Homo sapiens: one gene and its partners. The protein of the gene in region 1 interacts with the protein of each later gene in a pairwise test. Each region holds a gene or a part of one and is shown in the gene's direction. Other genes may lie near its edges. The genes, in order: SFMBT2, LYPLA1 and SCML2.

Region 1 (7,721 bases):
TGTTCCCTGGGCTGGTCTCGAACTCCTGAACTCAGGCAATCCACCTGCCTTGGCCTCCCAAAGTGCTAAGATTACAGGTATGAGCCATCACGCCCGGCCTTCATGTACTTTTAAAAATATGCCCTGTACCCTATTATTTTTTTCTCTTGTTGTCAAGGAAGCTTGAAATTCCTTCAAATTATACAAGAGTCAATCGCAATAGTGTGTTTCTGAAATTTCTATAAATGTATGAGAAGGTGCTCTCTTAGGTGGTGATATTTTTTGAACCAATACACATCACTACACTCACTGAGAACTCTAGTTATTTTCACAAGCCATCTCAATAACCCCAGGCTTTTCTCAGAAGGACTGTCATAGATACACTCACCAGAGCCCCCACACTTTTATGGGCAACACAAAACTCATACAGTAAATGCAAAAACACAATAATAATCAAAAGAAGGCAAAAATATGACCTGAATGGTACCTTCACTGAAGGGCAGTGAGGCAAAGAAGGCCCTAATACCCTTTCCCTACAAATTCCTTTACTTAATTCTTTTTTATCTTCTGTGACCTCAGAATTTGATTGCTATATCAAATTGGCAGAATACCATATAAAGCAATTTATGGCTTTGAGGTGGGGTAGATTGCTTAGCACTGTTTAGGTCTGAAAGGACCTCACAGAACACCTAGTCCAATCCCCTCATTTTACCCAAGAGGAAAGAACGGCTCAGAGAGGTCACTGGACTTACAGAGGTCACACAGATAATTAGCGATGAAGCAGTGACTGAGGTCACTGGACTCCCAATACATTAACCATTAAGTGCTTTAATTGGGGATAGAAGATAAGGAAAAAAGGTGAAAAAATAAAAGACAGAGTGTATTTAGATTTACTCTTTGTGACCTTAGGATCCTGATGGAAAAATACTATCTTATGTAGCCTAAGAAAAAACAAGTTTTGGTTTCAAGGCTCCAGTAAAGAGAAGGTTGTACAAATTCTTCAAATATTTGGTTCTGGCCTCTTTTTCTCCTCCTTCTGCTTTCCTGTTAGGCTAGTATGTCTAATGGTTCATTAGGGAGTCTCTATATTAAGAAAGCATAATGGTTTATCTTCTATTTTCTTTGGTTCATTTCCTTTTCCCAGTGGGAAGTGATAACTTAAACATGGACTAGGTATGTACAAATTGAACATTTTTCTTGGGTACGACTAATGCAACAAGATTTAAGTAATCACATGTCCTAAATATAAAGAGAATAAATAGTACACATATAATTTTTCAACTCCTCTGCAATAGTTTTTGTGATGTAATGCTTAGGAATATAAGGAAAATGAGACAAAAACTTTTCAATTGTTATTTTATATTTCTAATTTGTGCTGTATCATTAGACAAATGGAATAGCATCTAAATATTTTACAATTAACCAATTAGCCCCATTTATGTTAAAGAATTCCAAAGTCCCTGTGAAGGGATAACTTGATCTGTAGAGTGATGAAATTCATGGCTTAAGCAAAGTTTAGGAGTGAAATAATATCTATAGTTAGTGTGATCAAAGGCTTATTTTGGCCAAGATTTTTAGTAAATATTAACAGTATAGAGAAAAATCTTGTGTTGATAATGAGATTTTCATGACCCTGTTTGAGCTGGAGTGCATAAGCCTTCTTTACTTTAAAAAAGCAGTCACAATTTTTGTCAGTGCGTTATCCTTTGCTGACTATGTGGAATTTTTTCCTACCTTTAATTGATTTAGGGTGCAACCTACATCTGGGTATATATCCCTAAAGTGTCTGGTTCTGAAATAAAAATGAAAGTGGAAAGGTATTGAAGTGGGATGAAGGGGCCACTTGAATTGCCTCAGGGAATCTCCTAACCAATTTTCATTTGCCTCATTGGTGCCCTTGGATAAAAGAGAATGGAGGTCGGTTGCAGAAAAGAAAATCAAGGAATCTTCAAAAAGTCACGTGCAAAAAGCAACACAAAAATAGGAGGGAAGGAGTTTTTTTTTACAATAACAATGCCACCTTTGTGTGCTGCGACTTCCTGATTATATTTCTTAATCACGATAGGTAACCCTCCCCCAAAATCACCATTTTGTGGACCCAGGAGCAAAATTATACGGGGTCTACGTACCCAAAACATTAAAAAAATTCAACTCCTTCGGAGTAACCAGGTAAGATAATGAACGCAGTCATACACTGTTTGGGATCAGGTGTTCTTCTGCATTTGCTTTTATTTGGATGAAAGAATGTTTCGTGCACAATGATGACCTAAAACTGGTAAACAAGCCTGGAGAGAGCGCGGTGGCTGGTTGCAGCTCACGTCTCCACGACTCCTGCAGAAGGAAATTACGTTCTCCCCTTCCCCCCCGCACCCCTACCCCTACCCCAAGCCCCCGGGAAGCCCTGCGCTGGCACCAGGGCAAGCGCCTGTCGGCTCCCGGGAGCTAAGCGAGGCCGCGCGGTCTGGGACGCAAATGGGAGGGAGCAGCCGCTGTCGCCCTGCGGGGCCAGGGCCACTGGGTAGGCGCAGCGCGGGCCAAGAGTGGGAGGCTCAGGGCAGGGGATCCGCACTCGGGGCCATTCCTGCCGCGGCGCGCCCTGCGCTTCAGCAGTGCACAGGGTGGGGACCCCTCGAGGACAGTGGTGCGCCGACGGGTCTCTCGGCCCCTCCCTTTCCACAGGCCCCGCTGTGTGGTGAAGGAGCCAGAAGAGGCGACTTGGGTGTTGAGACCCGGGGCCAAACCGTGGAGAGTGTCTGGAGCCCACACTCCAGATTTCTGGACGCCGCAGTCAGTCCAGCAGGTTCTACCTGGAGCCGCCTCGGGGCTCAACCGGGAGGCAGCGGGGTGCAGGCGAGAGGGTTAATGCGCCCGGTTCGGTTGGTTTGAGGAGTCTCTGCTTTCAGCGACCCACAGGGCAGAGAGCCCAGGGCTCCGGCTTGATGTCCCCAACAGCTGGGGACTGGAGAGCTGGAGGGGTCGCAGACTCAGGCTAGAGTTTAAAGTGCGCCGCGCGGCGAGTCGCTGGACTCTTCTGGGTCTCACGTGGCTCCTGTGTCACATGGAGTGACAGGCCGGCGGAAGGCGCTTTAGTCGTCGCCCAGCGTTCTCCAAGGTGTAAGGAGGCAGGATCTTCCCATACTGGCGGCGCAGGGGGCCTCACGGCTGCGGACGCCCGCCCTGGATCTCTCAGCTCGGCAGATCCTTTGGGTGGAGAGGCGCTCTCCAGGGTCGCGGCGAAGGAGAGCGGCTTCTCGGCACGTCCCTCCGTATTTCTTCTAGATCAGCTCCGGCCCCACCGTCCAGGAGAGGGCCCGCCTGAGGACCTCTGTCTGTGCCGCGCGTGGTCAGCCCCGGTCCCCTCACTCCATGGCTGGCCCCTAGCCCTTCAGAGCGGACACCTCTCCTTAGGGATGCAGGGCGAGGAAGGGCGGGTGGAGCTGCGAACCCACGGGGACCTGGAGGACCTCTTGGCCCCCTGGAGAGGGGTACTATGAGAGGGATTCATGGGACACAGATTTGGGGGACTGGGTAATTTTACCCCCTTTGGCAACCATAAAAACCCTGAGCAAACGTGTCCATTCGCTATTTCGCAGAAATATACAATGCAGGCCCACACAGGCATCTCTGCGAGGCCCCCTAGTTAAGGGCGCAGCGTTCTTCGGAAGCTCTTGGTCTTGCTACCAGGGCGTCACCGGCTTTTCCGCACTGGGGACATTTCGTTTGGGCTCTGCGCAGCCGTTGCACCTAAGGCCCTGGGAGCTCCGCGTTCCTCCCCAGGCGCCCGGGACAAAGTGCCCGAGGGCTCCGCAGACGTCCAGCCCTGCCCGGGGCTCACGGCCGCCGGGGCTCTCCAACGGACCGTCGAGGGCCACGTTTTGCTGGGGTGTGAGCGACGATTCTTTTCCCGCCCTATGAGGCCCGCCACTAGCTAGGTGCCCCATGAGACGCCGTGGCGAGCACGGCTACCTGGCAGCTCGCCCGGGCAGCCCCAACTTAATTTCCTGCCCCTCGGGGCACCTTTCCCTCGAATAGCTCTCCTCGGCCCCTCCAGCCCTGCCCAAGGGGCCTGGAAATGTTCGCAGCTTCAAGAAAGGCTCTATTTAAGCACAGGATGGGGTGGGGCGGGCGGGGCCAAGATTGCCCTGGGGATTGAATTTATCTCCGCTCCCAGCGATCCCCGGCGGATAAAGCGCAAGTTTGTGCACACGGTCGACTGAGCCATTGGAAACCCAGCTCACGAACCGCAGCCAGGGAAACGGGAGTTTGCCCAGTTGTCCTTGCGGAGGGGTGTGCGGAAACGCCCGCGATGGGAACTTTCTGCAGATCATGTATGGAGGGAGCTCACAAAAAGGAGGAAGGGGAGCGCGGTGGGGAGGAGGCCGCGTGGGCGTGGAAGGTCCCAGGGTCCTGGGGGTGCCCGCCTGCTTAGGCGCAGGGAATGGCGCGGAGCTGGCTGGGGAAGGAGCCGATCACGTCCCGCAGGCTAATTGGCTTAAGAAATTTTGCAAGCGCTGGAAAAGGTCGTTGAAGGAGTTCGCTGCACGCGCACGCACACACATACACACACACACAAAATCTTAAAAAAAAAAAAAAAAAAAAAAAAAAAAGAGCGCCGAGCATGCGCACAGAGAGGATGCCATATTGGAATGAGCTGTAGTGGGAGCCGGAGGACCGGAGCGGGCGCGCGAGGGAGGCGGCGGGCGGGGAGCGAGCGGGCAAGGGCGGGCGAGCGAGCAAGCGAGCGAGGCCGGTGCCCTCCCGGGCGGCGACCGGGGCCTGGGTCCACGCCGAGGGCAGGACGAACTTCACCAGGTAGGACGCCGCGCCGGCTGCTGTCCCCGGCGCCCAGGCTGGCCGGAGAGCAGCCCTTCGGCCCGCAGGTTGAGTGCGCTGGTCAGGGGCTTTTTCCAGCCTAGGAAAAAAAAGGAAAAAAAAAAAAAGGAAGGAAGCCTGAGGGAGCTGGGGTTGGAGGTGGCGGGTGGGGGAAGGCTGGGGAGGGTGCAGGGGAGCGAAAGAGAAGGGCAGGAGAAGAAAGCGACTGCACTTGAGCGAAGCTTCAAACTCCTCTGTGCGCTCCAGGTTGTCATTTTTGCTTCCCGGGTCCCCTTCGCCTGCGTCTCCGGGCTCGGAAAAGCCGAGCCGTGCGGGAGTCCGTCCGGAGTTGCAAAGTGTCCTCCTTCCCCGGGCGCAGCCTGTCCCCTCCCGCCGCCCACCTTCCTCGTTTCTGCACTCATTTTAGCGACGCAGCCGCCGCTGCTACCTACCCCGCGCTCCCGCGTCTCCTCCGCGCTGGGGTCTCCCCTTTCTTTTGGTTTGGGTGGGAGAAAAAGATGGTGAGGACGGGGAATCGGAGACCGGCATGGGGGTAAAAATCGTGCAGACATTCGGAATCGCTCCCTTGGAAACATTTGCCTGAGCAACTGAAATAAAATTGGCAGTAGTAGTTTTGGAGCGTGCTCCAGCGAGGATGGTCTTTTTGTTCATTATTTTCTCTTTAAAGTAATATCCTGTCACTTAGGGGCTTTCCGGTTGTCTCCTCTTATTCGACCCCCTTTCAAAATTGCTGACTTGAGCTGGTTCTGGAGTTTATTTTTTAATATGCGTGCGTGGGTATGTGTATGTGTGTGTATGTTTTGCAGAAATCCGCCAAAATGCAACTGTAGGAACTGCGAGATGTATTTATTGATTTTGACCAGGGGCGGTGGGAAGGGGCTGGAGGGAGCTGGGGGATCCTGGAGGGTGGGAAGTGGCTGATTCTCGGTGGCCGGACACTCATCCAGAGCCTGATCCGTACTCGTGTTTTCTTGGAAGCGCCACAACTGCGGGGAAGGAGTCTTTAGAAACCGTGCCAGTTTCAATATGGCGGGCTAAGGTGGCTTTTAAAAACTGAAAATAAAGGTTTTGAGGTGGGAAAAAACCCAGCTGAAGTTTCCACCCCTTAGTTTCGACTCTCTTTGGCTACCCCAGGAAGCGCTTTAGCGAATTAAGTGGGGAAAAAAAGAAGGAATGGGCTGTCCGGTTTTTTTTTTCCGTGGTTAGAGTCTGTGTGTCAAGTCCATTGCTAGGGGGGAAAGGGATGGAGAAGTGCCCCTGGCCCGGACCAGGGCACCGAAACGCAACTGTCGTGTGTGCCTGTGGATTAGTGTGCAGGCCTGCGTGTGCGCAGTTTTTTTGGGTGTGTGTGTCAAAGAGAACCACCCCGAATGTGTGTGTGCGTCTTGGAACCAGACCCTGCCATGATTTGACGTGACAAACTGCGGACACGTGGTGTAAAGTACATGAGGGCAGAGGGAGTGATTTATTTTGTCTTTCTAGGAGACGAGCTAGCTCTCGCCTTGTGTGTGCTGGATCCTGCGCGGGTAGATCCCCGAGTAGGTGGGGCGAGGAGGTGCTTATTAAAAGGACTAACTGTCCCGGGTATTGGGTGCAATCGGGCTGCAGACGCCAGCCGGATTTCGTGTGTGCAGGGGGCGCGCTGCACTTAATAGTGGGCTCCTGCTTTCCTCCACGCCGCTCTGGGGTGGGAGGTGGGGGACCGGGACCGAAGCTTGGAGAAGACCAAAGTGGTGGTGGTGGTGGTGGGGTGGGGCAGAAGGGCGGGAGCGCGCGGCTCTGGGAGACAAGCACGTAGGGTCGAGGCGAGGGGTTGCCTTCCTTACTTTTGGGTTTCGCGCTCTAGGGAAGGTGGGGGATGGGGACAGCGTTTGGGGAAGAAATTGTCCCTTGCTCGGCTTAGGAACCCTCTCGGCGCATCGGAGAGGGGCATCTTCTTGTCTTGGCGGGCATGGAGGCCGGGCAGTCGCCGGGGGATGTGAGTGGGCGGCGAAGTGCGGGGGAAAGGTCGGCGTTCCAGGGCGGGGAGGATCTGGGAGTGGAGTTCGGAGACAAAATCGGGGTCAGGCAGAGGAGCCAGAGGGAAAGCCAGCAAACGCGAGCTCGGGTGAGAGCCACCGGAATGCGGGAACGCAGCTTAGCCGGGAACAGGGTTCCCGACAGGGGTCGCCCGTGGCCAGGACGCGGCCGCTGAACAGAGGTCGCGCGGCGGTTCCTGCCCGAGGGACCTCGTGGGCGGGGGCCACACGGAGGCCGCGCACGGTCCCCGGGGCTGGCGGGGGCAGGTGGGAGGACCTCCTCCGGGCCCGCGAACCTGATCTGGCAGCGGCCAGGTGCCTGGAAGCGTTTTTAAATGATAGGGTTACAAAGACATGTTGGCCAGGTTTGTAGTTAGCGCAGCAACGTGGTTTGCAGGAGCGCAGAACGAGGCTAGACAGGGTCACTCGGACGCCGTGCTGTCAGTGGGTGGGGGCCGGGAGCAAGCGGCACTGGCTTGGAGACCCCGCGGCAGGTGACCCCTCCCACCTGGGCAGCGAGGCTGAACGATGGCGACACGCCGGCCAGGACGCGTCCGTGGCTCCTCCAGCCTGCGTTTGGGCGCGCCCTCCCGGGGCCGGCTTTCCCATGGGCCCCGCGAGGTGGGGAGCAGCCTAAAATGGCTCTGTGCTGCGAAGCTGCAGTTTCAGCCGCGAACCCCTCCCCTTGTCCTCCTGACGTCGCCGCTGACAAGCGCAATTTGCTCCAAGGCCCCGAAACCCGCGATTTTGCACGAGGCCGTGCCGTGGAAGCGGATGTACAGTTGATTACAAAGAACATTCCACAGGGTTCTCGAAGGGCCCAAGTTTTTCCTTCTGGTGGGGAGGAGGGAGGAGCCGAGACTGGGCAGGAGCCCGGCCGACCACCGCTCT
Region 2 (6,939 bases), on another chromosome or scaffold:
TGATATTACAGGAAAGGGGTCCCAATCCAGACCCCAAGAGAGGGTTCTTGGATCTCACGCAAGAGAGAATTCAGGGCAAGTCCATACAGTAAAGTGAAAGCAAGTTTATTAAGAAAGTAAAGAAATAAAAGAATGGCTACTCCATAGCTGGTTGCCCATTTTTATGGTTATTTCTTGATGTTATGCTAAACAAGGGGTGGATTATTCATGCCTCCCCTCTTTAGACCATATAGGGTAACTTCCTGACATTGCCACAGCACTCGTAAACTGTCATGGCGTTGATGGTGTGTCCAGCATTGGTGGGTTCTTGGTCTCACCGACTTCAAGAATGAAGCTGCGGACCCTCGCGGTGAGTGTTACAGTTCTTAAAGATGGTATGTCTGGAGTTTATTCTTTCTGGTGGGTTCCTGGTCTCACTGGCTTCAGGAGTGAAGCTGCAGACCTTCGCAGTGAGTGTTATAGCTCTTAAAGGCACTGCGGACCCAAAGAGTGAGCAGCAGCAAGATTTATTGCAAAGAGCAAAAGAACAAAGCTTCCACAGTGTGTAACGGGACCCGAGTGGGTTGCCACTGCTGGCTCAGGCAGCCTGCTTTTATTCCCTTATCTGGCCCCATCCACATCCTGCTGATTGGTCCATTTTACAGAGAGCTGACTGGTCCATTTTGACAGGGTGCTGACTGGTGCATTTACAATCCCTGAGCTAGACACAAAAGTTCTCCAAGTCCCCACTAGATTAGCTAGACACAGAGCGCTGATTGGTGCATTTACAAACCTTGAGCTAGACACAGGGTGCTGATTGGTGTGTTTAACAAACCTTGAGCTAGACACAGAGTGCTGATTGGTGTTATTTACAATCCCTTAGCTAGACATAAATATTCTCCACGTCCCCACCAGATTAGCTAGATACAGAGTGCTGATTGGTGCATTTACAAACCTTGAGCTAGACACAGAGTGCTGATTGGTGTATTTACAATCCTTTAGCTAGACATAAAGGTTCTTCAAGTCCCCACCAGATTAGCTAGATACAGAGCGCTGATTGGTGCATTTACAAACCTTGAGCTAGACACAGGGTGCTGATTGGTGTGTGTACAATCCTCTAGCTAGACATAAAAGTTCTTCAAGTCCCCACTAGACTCAGGAGCCCAGCTGGCTTCACCTAGTGGATCCTGCACTGGGGCCGCAGGCAGAGCTACTTGCCAGTCCCACGCCGTGGGCCTGCACTCCTCAGCCCTTGGGCGGTCGATGGGACCAGGTGCCGCGGAGCAAAGGGAGGTGCTGGTCAGGGAGGCTTGGGCCACGCAGGAGCCCACGGCGGGGGCGGGGGAGGCTCAGGTATGGCGGGCTGCAGGTCCTGAGCCCTGCCCCGCGGGGAGGCGGCTGAGGCCCGGGGAGAATTCCAGCGCAGTGAGGGCGGGCCCACAGTGCCGGGGGACCTGGTGCCCCCTCCGCAGCTGCTGGCCCAGGTGCTAAGCCCGCCGAGCCCACGCCCACCCGGAACTTGCTCTGGCCCCGGTTCCCACGGACACCTCTCCCTCCACACCTTTCTGCAAGCAGAGGGAGCTGGCTCTGGCCTGCGCCAGCACAGAGTGGCTCCCACAGTGCAGCGGCGGGCCGAAGGGCTCCTCAAGTGTGGCCAGAGCAGACACCGAGGCCGAGGAGGTGCTGAGAATGAGCGAGGACTGCTAGCGCGTTGTTATCTCTCAATGAGAGTGCAGTAGTGAGGATGACCAGAGTTCACTCTCATTGCCATCTTAGTTTTGGTGGGTTTTGGCCGGCTTCTTTACTGCATCCTGTTTTATCAGCAAGATCTTTATAAGCTATATTTTGCGCTGACGTTCTATCTCATCCTGTGACTTAGAATGCCTTAACCGTCTGGGAATGCAGCCCAATAGGTTTCAGCCTTACTTTACTCAGCCCCTATTTAAGATGGAGTTGCTCTGGTTCACACGCCTCTGACACTGGTTACCGTGTGAAAGAAATGGAGTGTTGTTTTTTTTACAGCTTTCTTCCGAACCTTACTCTCTAAGGATGGTATCCAGTATGTCCTTTTTTTTTTCAGATGGAGTCCTGCTCTGTTGCCCAGGCTGGAGTGCAGTGGTACTATCTTGGCTCACTGCAAGCTCCGCCTCCTGGGTTCATGCCATTCTCCTGCCTTAGCCTCCCGAGTAGCTGGGACTACAGGCAACCACCACCACACCCAGCTAATTTTTTTTTTTTTTTGTATTGTTAGTAGAGACGGGTTTTCACCGTGTGAGCCAGGATGGTCTCAATCTCCTGACCTCGTGATCCGCCCACCTCGGCCTCCCAAAGTGCTGGGATTACAGGTTTGAGCCACTGCGCCCGGCCTCCAGTATGTCCTTCACTGAATTGTAAACTTCTGAAGGTCAGGGCATTTTGGCTTTAAGTGTTTCTATCTTGTGCTCTCTTCCAGATCTTACCATGTAGTTGATATGCAACACATTTGTTGAGTAACTACATTTTAGGCCATAAAGGCACCTGTGCAGAAAAGGGCAGTCTAGTCTCATGCTTATGTGTCCAGAGTTGGTTCCTTCCGGTGGGTTCATGGTCTCGCTGACTTCAAGAATAAAGCTTGTCACCTTCGTGGTGAGTGTTACAGTTTTTTTTTTTTTTTTTTTTTTTTTTTGAGACAAGGTCTCTCTCTGTCTCCCAGGCTGGAGTGCAGTGACGCGATCTCAGGTCACTACAAGCTCTGCCTCTCAGGTTCACGCCATTCCCCTGCCTCAGCCTCCCAAGTAGCTTGGACTACACGACCGGCCAATTTTTTTTTTTTGTATTTTTAGTAGAGACGAGGTCTCACCGTGTTAAGGCAGGATGGTCTCGATCACCTGACCTCCTGATCCACCCGCCTCGGCCTCCCAAAGTGCTGGGAGTGTTACAGCTCTTAAAGGTCCCACAGACCCAAAGAGTGAGCAGCAGCAGCAAGATTTATTGTGAAGAGTGAAAGAACAAACTTTCCACAGTGTGGAAGGGGACCCAGGGCTGCCACTGCCAGCTAGGGGATGGGGGGCGTGGCCAGCTTTTATTTCCTTATTTGTCCCGGCCCAAGTCCTGCGGATTGGTCCACTTTACAGAACACTGATTAGCCCGTTTTACAGGGTACTGATTGGTGCATTTTACAAACCTCTAGCTAGCCACAAAGTGCTGATTGGTGCATTTTACAATCCTAGCTACAGAGTGCTGTTGGTACATTTTACAATCCTCTTGTAAGACAGAAAAGTTCTCCAAGTCCCCAACCGACCCAGAAGACCAGCTGGCTTTACCTCTCACTTAAACCTGTACTGTGTCAATATCCGTACATCAGTAAGTGTTGTCGATCAAGTTAGGGAAGTAGTGGATTTCTGGTGACAAATGTTACCCTTTCCAACTAAAGTTTAAAGAAGGTAAGTTGAACCCAAATCTACATACTGCTGTAGCCCCAAACGGAAATACTGCAAAAGCTCCATCAACGTCTCCCAGTCCATCCAGACTTTTACAAATGGATAGACCCCGGCCGCAGGAAACCAAGGAGCACCTGGGGTTGGGTTGGGTGAATTGGCTCTGGGGCTCATTCTTTTCACTACAGCGCCAGAAAAGCAAAAACCTAAACCAAGACCCAAGAGACCAGCCCTCAGCCTGCACCTGAGAGCACATTTTCCCTAGCCAGCACTGAGCATGCGCAGGCTGCGTGGTGTGGCGAAAGCGCAGCCAGGTCCGCGCTGCCGCCGCAGCCAATCGGAGGGAGGGAGCCGCCCGGACATTGTGAGGTGCCGAGGGAGGGGCGGCGGGCGAGGGGCAGGGCAGGGCGGACCCTGGACGCGCGGGCGCGCGCGGAAGGTAGCGCGGGGCCGCGTTGGCGCGCACGCGCCTGAGCGTGCGCCCGGTGGGGCCGGCCGGGACTCGCCGCTCGCACGCCCTTGGGCCGCGGCCGGGCGCCCGCTCTTCCTTCCGCTTGCGCTGTGAGCTGAGGCGGTGTATGTGCGGCAATAACATGTCAACCCCGCTGCCCGCCATCGTGCCCGCCGCCCGGAAGGCCACCGCTGCGGTGAGTGGCGTAGGCGTGGGCTCGGAGGGGTCCACTGGGCCGGCCACCGGTGGTTGCCCCTCGCGCGGGGTGGGCGTTGCGGGCGCGTGGCGGCCTGCGGACGAGGACGCTCCTCCCGGCCCGGGTGGGGTGCGAATGGTCCGCGCGGCCGGGTCCGCGGGGGGCGGGGGCAGCCGGGGGGTCACAGCCGGCGCGAGGGCCAGTCCCCAGCTCCTCCCTGCATTGCGGAGGAAGTGTGGCCCCGGGACCCCCGCGGGCCGGCCTAGGGCACGGCGTCAGCCTCTGCAGCGTGTTTCTGCCTGGTGTGTGGGTGAGGGAAACCTAAGTCCGCCAGGAAATCGCCTTATTGTCACCTCGCACTCTTATCCTCAATGAAAGAAGTTTGAAGATTGAGTGTCCTACAAGGTCAGACGTACTGTTTTTTAGAAAACTCGTGTATGAAAAGTCAAACTTATTTTTGCCTCCGGAAGCTTGCTTTTGCAGTGGAAAAATTCTACAGGATATGTGAGATGTTCCTGATTTCACTTGAAAGAGATAAACTGTTTTTCTTAGAATGTGATCATTTGCACTCAATGTCTAACTGGGACCTCTCAGTGCTACCCCCCCCCCATTCATTATCTCAGGAAATAAAGGGAGAAGTTGATCAGAATTTTTGCCATTTAAAAGAGGTCGATAAAGATTAAGTCGCCGAAGATAGTGTTGTGTAATTCTCTCGTAGGTTTCGTTCCGTTTTCCACCTTAAGCAAAGCTAGTGTGTAACAATCCTGTGTGGGCTTATTTAGGCATTGCTTATTAATTTTCCTCTTCTCTTATAGGTGATTTTCCTGCATGGATTGGGAGATACTGGGTAGGTACCATTATTATTAATAGTAACAGTAATGAAACTGGGTCATGCAACTTTTGTTTACGCGTTCAAAGGTTTAATGTTTAAGGGCGCTAAAATGGTATTTTAAGATTGCCAGTTAATGTATCTTACAGTGCGGTGATTTTATGTTTTGAAAACCCTCAGAATTTTCCCCTTATCATCGTGAGTTTATTGATTTTTTAACTCTGGTTTCTGGAACATATTAAAATTTCAAATTCCTCATTAGTTGCTTTGGGTATTGGATACCAGAGATCCGTGGAATGTTAGTAGGGACGGTGTGCAATTGAGAGCTTTCCAGAGCAGTTAAAATTTCAGAGCAGATTGAAGAGAAGAACTAGTTGATTTTGATAAGAGAACTAGTGGCAACATAAGGCATGCAGCATTCTGAATAGAGGGATTAGATGTTCACTCTAATGAGTTGAAAGGCAGGGGAGGCAACTCAAAGATTTATTTGGAGGCTTATCAAACAATTTGTTGTACTAACTACTTATTTTTATTTTATTTTTTGTTTGTTTGCTTTTTTCTTTTGTTATTATTTTTAGAGACAAGGGCTCTCTCTGTCGCCCAGGCTGGAGTGCAGTTGCAGGATCTTAGCTCACTGCAGCTTTGAACTCCTGGGCTCAAGTGATCCTTCAGCCTCAGCCTCTCAAAGCACAGAGATTAGAGGTGGGAGCTGCCTGAGCCTGGCCTTTTGTACTAACTTTAGATACATGATTTATCTTTTACTCAAGCTTTTTCTATATTGAGATGTTTTTGTTTTTATATTTAAATTGGTGATAATCTGTGAAACTTAAGCAAAATATGAATGTTGTTGAAAAATTGCAGAAATAGAGGAAAACTGAAGATAAATAAATTTTGATAAAGTAGCCCCAGAACGACTAAATTTTCTTTAAAATGAACCATTGGGGCCGGGCGCGGTGGCTCACACCTGTAATCCCAGCACTTTGGGAGGCCGAGGTGGGTAGTTCACTTGATGTCAAGAGTTCGACACCAGCTTGGCCAATATGGTGAAACCCCATCTCTACTAAAAATATAAAAATTACCCGGGTGTGGTGGTGCATGCCTGTAATCCCAGCTGCTAGGGAGGCTGAGAGAAGAGAATCACTTGAACCTGGGAGGCAGAGGCTTCAGTGAGCCAAGATTGCACGACTGCACTCCAGCCTGGGCCACAGAGTGAGACTCAAAAAAAAAAAAAATGCCATTAGGCTAGATTTTTGTTTGTTTGTTTGGAGACAGGGTCTGCTGTGTTGCCCTGGCTGGAGGGCAGTGGCGTGATCTTGACTCACTGCAACCTCCACCTTCTGGGTTCCTGGGTCTCCCGAGTAGCTGGGACTACAGTTGCTTGCCACCATGCCAGCTAATTTTTGTATTTTTAGTAGAGACAGAGTTTTGCCATGTTGGTTACGCTGGTCTCGAACTCCTGACCTCAAATGATCCACCCACCTGAGCCTCCCAAAGTGCTGGGATTACAGGCGTGAGCCACCACTTAAAAGTGATTCCTATTTTTTGCCTAATAAGTCGAGTTATGTAATACAAACTTTGTATGGAGTTACAGAAAAGGTTGCAGCACTCTTTCTGGCAATCCAGTGGTCCTGTGAAAATGATGAACTTATTTTACCAAATGAAACTCGAATAGCAGAATCTCTATTTTATGGCCAAACCTTTCTTGATGTTGCAAGTCAGGGAGAAGGTTGCTATCCTCTAACTTTGCCAATAATGAGCACTTCTATGCCTGAATGATTAGTTCAAGCAAAAAAAAAAAAACTTCAGTCTAGGCAGATTCCACAGACTGAAGCTAAAAGTAAAAATGGTGAAGACTATTAGGATCAAAAATACCAAGAACATCCATTACATCTTGACCAAAAGTTAAGTTTATATTAAAAAAGTATCCTTCTTTTTAACCTGTTGTGATAAAAGAAAAAACAAAGGTCTCCAGTTCTGAAATTATTTGGTGGGATAATGCTAAGGAAAGGCTGACTCTAGATTGGTTCCATGAGTGCATGATGAAACTTCGAACCTGTCAGCCTGACAA
Region 3 (6,991 bases), on another chromosome or scaffold:
AATACTGAAAACAATTTATATCTTACAGATATGTGCTCTTGGTTTAATGGGGAAAAAAGGGCAAATTGTTAGAAACAGGGATCTGAAGATATTTGTAAAGTCACTATTTTAAACAATCAGTTATTTAATACCCATTCTATGGATTTTTACACTAAGGTAAAAATATGAATAGTGGGTTTACTAGTTACAACTTGGAGCTCCAGTCTCTGCCAGGCTTAGTTAGGCTTCTGTGTTTTAGGGAGAAAGATGCCCATTTAGTAGGAAAACTAGAGGGAGTCTTCACTCATCCTAAAACGTTAACTTTATGTATGCAAATTACATTGTTTCTTTTTTTTTTTTTTCCGAGACGAAGTTTCGTTCTTGTTGCCCAGGCTGGAGTGCAGTGGCACGATCGCGGCTCACTGCAGCCTCCACCTCCCGGGTTCAAGCGATTCTCCTGCCTCAGACTCTCAAGTAGCTAGGATTACAGGCGCCCGCCACGCCACCTGGCTAATTTTTGTATTTTTAGTAGAGACTGGGTTTCGCCATGTTGGCCAGGCTGGTCTCAAACTCCTGACCTCAGGTGATCCACCTGCCTCGGCCTCCCAAAGTGGAGGGATTACAGGTGTGAGCCACCGCGCCTGGCCGATATTGTTTCAACATAAGCATGTGTACTGATGAAGATCTAGATTAAACTTGCTTATCTAGGGAAGATTATCTTTTCACTCTCACTAATATTGAACTCTAAAAAAGGTACAAAAGGAAGCAATAAAACACACTTGAAATACAGGAGTATTTTGCCCTGGACTTGGACTGGGTGGGGTGATGTGTTTTTTTGAAGGTTGTCACAGGTTTGGTGCCAAATCAGGAGAACTATAAGAGCAAATTCACAGGAGCAAATCTGAGGCTTGAAAAATAAATCATGAAAACTTGGATTTTACCAGCTTTAGTTCTTATTCTTTCAGTTCACAGTTTCTTTATTTTCATGTTTTCTAGGCAAAGTTAATCGAACATAATAACAGTAGGTATTCATTTATCCATTTATCTATTCACTCATTCAACAAATATTTACCAAATTCCTACTATGGGCAAGAGACTTACATATAATGTAAGAGAAACGGTGATGTTCCAACCTGTGTTAACATTATGAAAAAACTGTCTCAAATTTATTTTGGCAAAGGTGGAAAAGCAGGGTATAATAAAATAATTATTGAAAAGTTTATATACGTAGTGGATAAAAGCACAATTGATGACAAGGGTGGAAGGAATTATTAGGACATATTTGAATATATTAATATATTCAAAAGCTAACTGCCACTTATTTGCTGTGTATTAATTTATTTTCCTCATCTGTAAAATGGGAATGAGAGTACCTACCTCATAGGAAAGTTGTGAAAGAACATTGCAAATATTGGAAATTTATCTCTAAAGAGACTAGCGTGATTCTCAGCACATGCTCAATAAATGGTAGCTATTGTTATTATCGATAACTCAGATTTAATATAACGAAGAGTCACACATCTATAAATCCTTTGGTGAGGATAGTAACTGAGAAGATGTTCTAGGATAGATAATTCAAATTTCATTTTTAGAATAAGGGCTTCAGTAATTTCATGTTAACAGAAATATGAAAAATAGATTAGGCATCAGTGAGCCAGGCAATTCAGCAATCATAGTAGAATTCCTACAATTTAATAGAATCCATAGACGTAAAAAAGGTATGTGACAAGCCAAAGTAAATCTTTCTTTTTTTTTTGAGATGGAGTCCCAAATAAATCTTTCATACATAGAATGTAGAGATGAATTTCAAATATTTCCATTGCATTGGGATTAGAAGGACAGTGGCCACTAATTAAGAATTTATGTCCTCCTCAGCCCTGCTGGTGCCCATAATAAGGTTTGTTTAGATTAAACCTCTGTTTAATTTCTTTCTGTTAAAGATCTCCTTCTGGCTTTTTTTTTTTTTTTTTTTTTTTGAGACAGAATTTCGCTCTTGTTGCCCAGGCTGGAGTGCAATGGCGCGATCTCGGCTCACGGCAACCTCTGCTTCCCAGGTTCAAGCGATTCTCCTGCCTCAGCCTCCCGAATAGCTGGGATTACAGGCGCGTGCCACCACGCCCGGCTAATATTTTGTACTTTTAGTAGAGACAGGGTTTCTCCATGTTGGTCAGGCTGGTCTCCAACTCCCGACCTCAGGTGATCCACTCGCCTCGGCCTCCCAAAGTGCTGGGATTACAGGCGTGAGCCACCGCGTCCGGCCTCTTTCTGGCTTTTGAAAACATGTTTGGGCCGGGCGTAGTGGCTCACGCGTGTAATCCCAGCACTTTGGGAGGCAGAGGCGGGTGGATCATGAGGTCGGGAGATCGAGACCATCCTGGCTAACACGATGAAACCCCGTCTCTACTAAAAATACAAAAAATTAGCCGGGCCTAGTGGCACGCGACTGTAGTCCCAGCTACTCAGGAGGCTGAGGCAGGAGAATCGCTTGAACCCGGGAGGCGGAGGTTGCAGTGAGCCGAGATCGTGCCACTGCTCTCCAGCCTGGGCGACAAAACGAGACTCTTGTCTCAAAAAACATGCTTGAACCTTCATCTTAGGACACTCCAACATTTTCTCCTATGTGATATACATTATAGAATTGATAGGACCAAATCTCACTTTAATATTTGCATATCATCAACCTAGTCTTTCTATTTTCGCCTTAAAGTTTACTTGAATTTGGCATTAACATTTAGGTTTTCATTTTTAAAGCATTAAATAATAGATCCATTTGATTCTGTGCCACTTGCCAATGTTTAGATATAATAAACACTTTGACTTTTGCTTAATACTGCAGAAGCTGCAACTGGAAAATTCTATCCTGCGTTGTAGACAATGGATATATTCCACAGGAGTTTTTTGTTCTCAGTTTTAAGCTCTGATTTCCAAATCATGATTTAAAAAGTATATCATGCCCTCTGCACTAAGTTAGGTGATCACAGATGCAAAACCTACATCCAGCTTTGGAAAGAGTTCCAGAGAGAGAAGCCCTAGCAATGGTTTGTTTTTGGCTAACATAGCACATTGTATTATTTTTCAAACAAAAGTTTGAAATCAGCTTATACCTAACCTGAGAACGAGGGACAGATGTTTTTCTCCGGCGTTCTGTTTGCTGTAATTTGTGCTGAGAGATTCACTGGTCGTTTTAAAGCTGTTTTTACGCCCCCTCCTTTGTGCGACCTCCACTTGCGCTATGGGCCTTGCCCGGTGGGAAAGGGAGCGTGCAGAAGGGACCCCAAAACGCACTCTCGGGGATGCTCCTGAGTCAGTAAGCAAGTGATTTCCCCCTGCGGGTTCATCTAGTTCCCGTTAGCTCAACCCCGGGTTTAGAGGAAGAACGAAATCCAGAGAGTGAAGCTGGGAGGTGAATGCGTGGCAAAAACTCATGGAAAAAAAAAAAAAAAGCAGTTTCAAGGACTATGCTGCAACCCGCCAAGCAGTGGCTTTCCTCAAGCTGCTGTAACCAGCTGCTTCTCCCTGCTCCTCGAACTTGCTTGAGTTCCGAGGGAAGCGCCTGCTTTTTGGGTGCGTGGCCAGGGTGGGTGGTGGCCAGGATTCGAAGGCGACAGTGAAGGGGAGCGAGTTCCCGGGATGGAACTTGACGTGGAACCCGGGGTCCCATCGAGGGGCTCCCCACGGCCTCGGGTGCTTGGGCTGCGACTGGTTTTTCATTTGGCGTAGGCGTGGGGGGTAGGAGGCAAAGTGCCAAGGGCTTTCCCGGGCTCACAGTGTCTCATGGTCCGCCACTGCCTGCGGTGGCGCTCGGCTTGACCCCGGCTCGGGCCCCGCACGCGGCGGCGGTCAAAGGGCGTGCTCGCGGCAACCGCAGGGCACGCGGGCCGGCCGCGCGGGGGGCGGGGCGGCAGTGGCGGTTGCGGGGCATGCGCGGCTCCGCGCGCGGCTTCTCAAACATGGCGGCGGCGGTGTGAAGCTCGGTGCCGGCTCGCGCGATCGGTGGGACAGAATTTCGTTGTTTTCACCGACGAGACTGGAGGTACGTGGTGATTCCGGGCCCCGTAAGGAATGGAGAGGCGGAGGTGTGTCCCGGACCCCGACCGTTGTCCGTGGGCGGGCGGGTAGAAGCCATCAGCGCGCGTCCCGTGCGAGGAACGCCCCCTTACGATCCCGCCTATGTCCCATCTCAGTTCGGCTTCGCGATAGGGTATCCCGCCCCCGGCGCCTTCCGCGGACGCCCTTCAGCCGATCTCGCGTTTCCCCTCACGCCGCCCCGGGGCCTTTTCGCCGCCGCGGGGTTTGGGCGCCCGGCCGATAGCTTCCACCCGTCCCCTCGCCTGCAGCGCCGACAGCGCCCTCCGGCGCATCCTCCCTGCCGTGGGTAGGGCCGGGCTGGGGCCTGGGGGGCATCACGGTGGGTGGCGGGGCGGAGGAAGGAGGTAGACTTTGCCTGGTCTGGGCTGAGATAACTTTTGGAGTTTGGGAGGGAAACGTCGGCCCGGAAGGATGCGCCTGTGGCGGCGTGCGGGCGCAAATCCTGGTGCCAAGGTGCGCGCCGCCGGGCTCCTGGCGGGGGCTGGGGGCGCCGGTGGCTCACCCTAGCGGTGCAGCGGGACCGGAATGCGCGTCCCGTCCGGGGCTGGCGGGGAGGCGAGGAGGGGCTCTAAGCCTCCTGAGGGGCGGAGAGGCGGCCTCGCGGCCTGACCGAAAAAAAGTTGCTGCCGTCACTTAGAAACAGTCTCGAAATGGTTTCTTACCTTTCTCGCTTTTTCCACCTGTATCGTGCTTGCGCCCCATCCAGGTGTGAAGAGCCGGAGGGAGAATGGGTCTAGGCGAATTTGCTCGATTTTGCGCCTCAAGGTTGTACATAGATAGCTTCCTGGGCCGACTTGTAATTCGGCTCCCCCAAACCCCAAATGTTTGGGCAGCACAAGTATTTACTTACAGGCTCCCATTTGAGACTATTTATTTTTTAAAAAGAGGTTGTTAAACATTTGTCAAGCATCACAAAGTGTGATTGCAACTTGAAATTTGCTTCTTGTTTGTAAATTAGGAGATTAACGTTTATGACTTACTTTAGGTCTTCTCTGGAAAGTTAATGGATCGATTAGTGGGGGTAAACTGAGGCAGGGAAAGTGAATAAGTTGCTTATGATCATATGATTTACAAAAGTATTGGAGATAGTTGTTTTTTTCCCTAAAACAGCTTCAGATGCTGCTACATTTTAATGCCCCCAGAGCTATTCATATTTCTGTTTTGAGGGAAAAGTATTTTAAGATGTACAACATTTATGGAGTACAGCTGCCTATGATGAGCAATTGTTTTATAACAATGGTTCATAAACGCATATTTAATTCTTTTCAATAACAGCGAGGGAAATGTTTTTCAATAATGACGATTTTGCCTTTCTTTTATTTTTCTTAATTACTCATTAAATAAAATATTTCCAATTACGAATGTGCTTTCAGGCTGTTTGTGTGTTTTTTTTTTTTTTTTCTATTTAATGGGAGGAATGTGAAAATAAGCTTTTGGAAATGAATCCAGTGGGATTTTTGAGAAAAGATTGAGTTTATGAGTATTCACCTGATGCCTTGTGTTTAGCTTTATCTATAACCTTTAAAACAGTTTGATAGAATGTAAAGAAAAAACACCATTTAAACTGGCTTTGAAAGTTTTGAATGAACTTTATATATACATCATGCAGCCATATGAACTTCTTAAGGATGTATACTTGTTTACCCCAGAGAACCTGATTTGCTTTGGAATTGGTAGTTGGAAAAAAGATTACTGTAACTCTACTGCATTATATGTGCGGGTGCTTTAAAGTTGATAGTGTCATAACGTTCAAAAATCATTACAGTCAGTCTAAAAAAGGTGTATCAGTTTTTCTCATGAGGTGGTTGATCAGTCCTTTTGATTTATGATTCCATCAACACATCTTTATTAAGCACCTGTGCTGTCTTTACTATGGAGTTCAGTTTATTCAGAGCCCACTACGTGTGCTAATTTCAGGGTGTTTAAGGCTTTCCACCCATAGTTTATTCCTGAAAATTTCAGGGAGTTATAGCTAAAAAAATCAATACGAATGTAGAACAAGTATTCCTTTCATTCAAAGGGCGAACTCGAGAAGTCAGTATTTTTGTCATAATTCTCCAAACAAAATTCTGAGTGTAGCTGCAAACTATTTCTGACTTACGTGATGTTAACTTTGTGATTTTTTGGTTAGGATTATATAAAGCTATATATTTTCATGAGATTATTTTCTGGTTCAAATAGATAACATACTGGTTAAGCTTGAGGGGAAAAATGAGTTGCTGGTATAAATGGAAATCAATATGTGCTCTGAAGATTGGGTATTTTTTAATACTAAGCAATTTCTATTACTAAGTAGTTTAAGCTGTAATTAAGTTTTAACTGGTATTTTAAAGCACTTTGTTTTTTCAAAATGTTGCAGAAATCTCTGAGCTCAGAAATAACAAATAAGGGTTATGATCCTCAGCTATAAGCCAGATGTGACTCTTATTTTCTTTTGGGCTTGTTCCTTTTTAGCTGCCTGCCTGTTCCTCCCAGATGCTTCCTATCACCCCTCTTCCTGCCCCTGTTCCCTTTGCTGTTGGTGTCTGTTTCCGCATCAGTGAAATGGTCAGGGTAATCCTTTGCTGCTTCACTGAGAAATAATTAATGATGGTAAAGTGCCTTGAAAAGGCTGAGTAAATACCAAGTCTTTTGAATTAACTTGATGTAGCCACTTGTTCCATTTAAGGAAGAGCCAAATCCCAATTTTAGTTTGAGCTCTTGGGGGTGCGAGAGAAAAGTTTCACTTGACTATTTTACTGCCTTTCTTTTGGGGTTAATAGCAATGACTTTTGTAACTCTAGTAACTGGAACACGGGTGGATACAGCAGTATCCTCTGCTGTTTGCCTTATTAGTCACCTCTAGTCTTTTTTTTTTTTTTGCCTGGTTATTCTGTCTGCCATTTTTCTCCCTCTATTCTCATTCCACTTGTGAATGGAAATC

Evidence for each region.
Region 2: the proteins of SFMBT2 (region 1) and LYPLA1 interact in binary tests that used the Homo sapiens proteins (3 or more experiments, as listed by UniProt).
Region 3: the proteins of SFMBT2 (region 1) and SCML2 interact in binary tests that used the Homo sapiens proteins (3 or more experiments, as listed by UniProt).

Annotation. Positions count from the first base shown.
Region 1 is NC_000010.11:7,407,931-7,415,651, reverse strand, and holds the start of SFMBT2 (scm-like with four MBT domains protein 2), read left to right. Parts: upstream 1-4,617; 5' UTR 4,618-4,791; intron 4,792-6,310; exon of another isoform or gene 6,311-6,350; intron 6,351-6,770; exon of another isoform or gene 6,771-6,790; intron 6,791-6,881; exon of another isoform or gene 6,882-6,919; intron 6,920-7,721.
Region 2 is NC_000008.11:54,098,858-54,105,796, reverse strand, and holds the start of LYPLA1 (acyl-protein thioesterase 1), read left to right. Parts: upstream 1-3,849; 5' UTR 3,850-3,973; coding exon 3,974-4,042; exon of another isoform or gene 4,043-4,447; intron 4,448-4,857; coding exon 4,858-4,889; intron 4,890-6,939. Other genes in the region: LYPLA1-TCEA1 readthrough, read left to right, coding at 3,974-4,042, 4,858-4,889. UniProt on the Homo sapiens protein: Acts as an acyl-protein thioesterase. Hydrolyzes fatty acids from S-acylated cysteine residues in proteins such as trimeric G alpha proteins or HRAS.
Region 3 is NC_000023.11:18,351,613-18,358,603, reverse strand, and holds the start of SCML2 (sex comb on midleg-like protein 2), read left to right. Parts: upstream 1-3,915; 5' UTR 3,916-4,012; intron 4,013-4,327; exon of another isoform or gene 4,328-4,354; intron 4,355-6,991. UniProt on the Homo sapiens protein: Putative Polycomb group (PcG) protein. PcG proteins act by forming multiprotein complexes, which are required to maintain the transcriptionally repressive state of homeotic genes throughout development.